Regions from separate parts of the Homo sapiens genome. Here region 1 is linked to region 2. The links come from fine-mapping of genetic effects on gene expression. Tissue or cell type: whole blood. Region 2 holds a variant in brackets; the other region holds the start of a gene. All regions are shown on one strand. Distances are from middle to middle.

What was found. PIP is the estimated chance that this variant, and not a neighbour inherited with it, causes the effect.
Region 1: DNAH6 starts here. The variant in region 2 is fine-mapped to the expression of DNAH6 in whole blood (TOPMed, PIP 0.92).

The regions. Positions count from the first base shown.
Region 1 is chr2:84,515,403-84,518,050 of GRCh38, forward strand. DNAH6 (dynein axonemal heavy chain 6) reads left to right here and starts at 1,096. Exons shown (of 77, transcript NM_001370.2): 1 at 1,096-1,181; 2 at 2,417-2,648. The coding sequence starts at 2,425.
Region 2 is chr2:84,813,142-84,815,641 of GRCh38, forward strand. It overlaps DNAH6 (dynein axonemal heavy chain 6), which reads left to right. Exons shown (of 77, transcript NM_001370.2): 75 at 830-981. Among named protein-coding and RNA genes, the nearest start is that of TRABD2A, 67 kb to the right of the region's middle. The variant T/C (reference allele first, on the strand shown) is at 1,003.

The DNA of each region.
Region 1 (2,648 bases), 300 kb before region 2:
TTCCCTTACAAATCAAATAGGGGAGTTGGACTATGTGACCTGTAATCTCCATTTTAGCTCTATCTGTGATTTAGAGAATCATACTACCATATCAAATACATAACTGAATATGTTAAGATTGAGAAGATGCAGGCTGTGAGTACAATAATGTAAAGAACTTCACATAGAGCAAGAAACAAATATCAAGGTAACAAAGAGCAACCGAAAAGAGCAAAAGAAAATGATGATTATGTCATTTTGGAGACAAGGTTGAAAACCAGAGCTCCTCCATGTGGTGTAAGGATTCATCAAGACAGGTGAAAGGATTTCTTCCCCTGATCAGTAACTGGGATAAGGCATCCCGAGTAAGCAACAGGCCCTGGCCTTCGATGGGGTCGCTCCATACAAAATTAGCAACAGTCACTTGGGAACTTAAGTGAGATTAAACGCCAGAATAAGATCCAGGGTCTGCTTTGGTAGAAGGGGCACGGGAACCAAGTAATACGGGCTCATCCTATGCCTGACACCTAGGTTACCTTCCAAGTGGAAAAGGACATTAGTTGGAAGGCCACAGTGGAGTTTAAGGGAAGAGGAGGCCACATTTCTTGAGCCTTAAGACACTCGGGAGGAGGTTGGCGGGTAGGGCAGGGATGCAGAGTGGTTGCTTCCTTGGAGAGTGGGACCTCATTTGTCTACACAACCCACATTCCTCTCCTGAAATTCTCGACTCTTTCGGATAAATTTCTATTAAAGTGAACGTCAAGTCAGTCTTACGCCTCTTGAAGGAAAACAGAAAAGAAATTCCTGTAAGAGGTTGAGATGGGTGTGAGTGGTCGATAAGCAACGAAGCAAACAGAATTAACCACCTCCTTTGGCTGCTCTGCCTACACCTCCTGGCACAGTACTCAATTCCCAGCGCAGAGGAGGAACCAGGCTGTGCGGCTTCTCCAACAATCAGCGAAGTAGGAAATGTTTCGGAGACACTAATTGGCTCGATTGCCTGGCGCGCTCCTGGACCGAAAGCTGTGGCTGGTTGAGGCGTTGCCTGGCGACGTGTTACTCAGTGGCGCAGTGCTTCCGTAGAGGCCAGCTGGTTGCTACGCAGCAACAGGAAACATTCCGCGCTACCGAGTACTTTCTACTCCCGACCAGGCATTGCTCTCTCTGGAGACCCTCGGCGGTGGTTGCTGTATTTTGACTTGGTGAGTCCTGGGAACCGACCCTCGGGCCTGGGCTCCGATTTCTGGGCCAGAAACAAAGTCTGACTTTCGGAGAACATAAAGGCTCAAAGAGGCAGAGAAAATCAATGGAAAGGCATTTCAGTGATTGTCTGCTATCCGCCCATCATTTTAGAGGGGTGGAAAGTGAGCAATAGCGATATCAAAAGACTTGTCCAAGATCTCACGCTGAGTGGTCAAATCTGGACCTGCGCTGTTAAATACGGTAATCTTTAGACCTCGTGTGGCTAGTCTGAATTGCAATGTGCTCATATGTAAAAAGCACACTGGATTTTGAAGGCGTGGTACCAAAAGACAACATAAGATATCACTATAATTTTTATACTGTGTGTTCAAATGATTATGTTTTGTATATGGTAAATAAAACATATTATTAAAATTAATCTCACCTATTTCTTTTTTAAAAATGCTATTGCTTGAAAATTAAAATTGCATACAAAGCTCTCATATTTCTATTGGCCAGCACTGATCTATATAAAACCTAGGTCTGCCGACACCTGATTCAAGACCTCTTGTGCTAACCCTATTTTGGAAGGTGTTTCGAAGTATCTCCACTCATCTAATGGGGTGAAAGTGTGCGTGGTGGTGCAGAGTGCAAGACCATTACAAAAGGCTCATATTTCTAGTGTTTTAGGACCTTGCTACTCAAAGTGTATGAATCAGAACCTTCATTTTAACAAGCTCTGCAAGTGATTGTCCTGCACGTTAAAGCTCCAGAAGCACTGTGTAAGAAATTAGCCCTCAATTCTTTTTTTTCCCTTTGTTTCTTCTTGAGTACCTATACTGTATTTTTCAGACTGCGTGTACTAGAATTAGCTGCATTTTGAACAAGTTCCGCAGGAGATGAGAAACATTGATCTCAATACTAATTACATTTCCTTTTGTCCTTCCAAATCTAGACCAGTGTGGTCTCCAGATGAGCAGCAGCAGCAGCATCCGCCAAGAACTTGCAAGAAATGCAAATTCCTGGGTTCCACCCTAGCTACAGGGGTTCTTGAAGCCTAGGCACAGTTTCTAATTTTTTATTCCTTTGGTTCAAGTCCTCAGTTCGGGAAGACTGGGGTAACTTTGATGGGTTTTATTTGAGGGAAGTGAGCGAATTCAACTCTTCCTAGTCCTTAAGTCCCTCTCCAGTAGCCTCCTTCCCCAATCCTTTTGATCTACTTTTCATTTTCTTTTTCCTCACCTATTCTTTTCAGGAGTAAGGATGACTTTTCGGGCCACAGATAGTGAATTTGACCTGACAAATATTGAAGAGTATGCCGAAAATTCTGCACTTTCAAGACTGAATAATATAAAAGCCAAACAAAGAGTGAGTTATGTGACATCCACAGAAAATGAATCTGATACACAAATCCTAACGTTTAGGCACATTACAAAAGCTCAGGAGAAGACAAGAAAACGACAGCAGCCTATAAAACTAGAGCCTTT
Region 2 (2,500 bases):
TTCTAGAAAAACCCCATAGGAATGGCCATGACTTCTCATACACAGGGTTTTGAGGTGCTGGGGAAATGACATGGCTGCTAATGCTCTAGCAATGAGGCTATTGATCATAGGGCAATCTAACAAGGTCGTGCTCTTCCTCACTTGTGGGGGGCAGAGGAAAGATGGCAGAGATAGCAGATGTTCCCCAACAACCTAATCCCTGCCCCTCTCAGGTTACATAAGTGCAGGCACTGCTGCCTCCACAAACACAGAATGTGCCTCAGTTCCCCATATGACCCACGCTCAAGGGCATCAACTGCTGTCCACCTGCTCAGGCCCCAGCTGTGAGCAGCTCCCTTCCCTCTGAGAAATTCTCTTGATGTGCCTCCATCAGCTCTTGGGGAATCTGGCTAGAGAGCCTCAGAGGGGGCTAGAGCCTGTGAGCAACTCAATGCTAATTACCCAAGCCCTTCATCTCTCTCATTCTTAATACCTATTAAACAGCCCATATAAAACAAGCTGGGCAAAATCCTAAAGTTAGCGAGATTGGGCTCTGAAACTGCCTCACTGGTTTGTCTCCCTCATGACAGGGCAATGCACTGAACACTGGCCTTCCCTCCCTTCCCAGCCAGGACCAGAGCTTGTCCATCCCTTGGGCCCTTACCTCCCAACATGACCCGCAGGCTTCCTGACCCTGTGAACTAACTCAGAGGAAGGTATTAAGAGTTGGGTCTTCTCTGTGGTGGGAAGGCTCTCTAATGCCAGGGCAGCCTGGTTTGGATGAAGGGGAATAGTGCCTGGGGAGTAGCAGTGTTGTTTGAACGCAGCTTTCCGATTTTCACAATTACAGGAACTCTTCAAAATCATGCTCGAAAATACAATTTGCCTATAGATGAGCTGAGTTTCAAATACAGCGTAATTCCCACCTATCGGGATCAAGCTGCAGTGATAGAAGCTGCCAAGACAGTGCAATTTGGACAAGAACTGCCCATGGACATGGAGGTATTGTCCACCTGGCTGTTA[T/C]GGCAAAGCAGCTTCTATCCCACTGTCTTTGAAGATTTCAGACAACCTTCCATGCCCCACTCCCCCACCACCTCCCATTGGCAGGAGCAGGAAGGGCAGGGTAGTAATCACACCTCCAAGATAAGCTCCCCAATTAGCAATGACCAGATGGGAACTGCCTAAACTAGTCTAAGTTATAGAAATATTTTTAAAGCAATATTTTTTTTATTTTTTAGCTACCTTTAGTAACCTTCTTCATCTTACAGAATCAATATAGCAAGAAGTTAAAAGCAAGGGTTTAAAAACGAGAGAAGCCTGAGTTTGAATTCTGACACTACCTTTCACCAGCTGCATGTGCTGGAGCAATTGTTAACATGTCTGCACCTCATATTATTTTAAGATCCTTCTTGTCTTAAGAAGAGAGTGTCAACTTTCCCATGTCAGGAAAACTTGAGGCTCCAGGAAGGTAAAGCAACACCCACATAAAAGCCCCCACCGGAGCTTTCCGGGACCAGCCTGCCCTGGTCCATGCTCAGCACACTCCATCTGCCACAGAGGCTGATTCTGACAGACAGAAGTTTACAGTGACCACCAGGGCTCTGTCCCTCCACCCTAGTTCATACCATGTCTCTGCTTGGGTCATGTGCGCTGAGCCATGACAATGCCTTACAATCTCTGAGATCTGGGGAGACTTCAGACTGTCTAACTGGCCTGTCTCCTGGCCCACCTAGCAAATGTCTGCCACCAACAGACCAGGAGACAGGCCAGTAGTGTGGTGTGAAAGAAACAGCCAGTGTCATGTGACCAGCACATATACTGGTCTAAACACAGGGTATGTGTTTAAACAGCTTTATCTCTGTTGCAAACAGGCAAGACCACTGTCAGCCCATTTGCCGCCTTGGCGCAGCATAGGAAAAGGTGCTCCCTCTGGGTGATGCCCAGTTGGTGGACACCCAGTAGGTAGCAGGATAGTTTTCAGGCAAACCTGCATAAACATATGTGCAGCCCAAAAACAGGAAGTCCCATCCTGCTGCACCCAAGAAACAGAAAGGTTAGGACACCAAAAAGCAAAGACCAGCTAAAAAGAATTTAGTTTACCATCCTTTTATTCACTATAAAATGCACTACATATTATCCAAACAGCTTAGTCCTCTGCCTGCAGACGTGAGGCTCCAATTATCCAAAGACCTCGGGCCAGAAATGGCCAAATCCACTCAGGGTTTGAGGAAGGATGACTCAGATGCCCACAATTGGAAAAAAAAAAAAAAAAGTGTGCACCGGTGGAGACATCCAATCACATCACAGGAATCTGATGGGCAGGGTCTCTCCCTCTCCCTCTTTCTTATTTAATACAAACATTTAAAAGTAAGCATAATTTTTAAAAAAGAGAGAAAGAACAAAAAGGAATTGTCCATGGGCACTCTGCAAATATTATTGCAGATATATAATCTGTCTTCTAGGAGGGCATCCAAATCCTTGAAAAACCTTGCTAAGAATAACAGACGATGATCTCAGTACT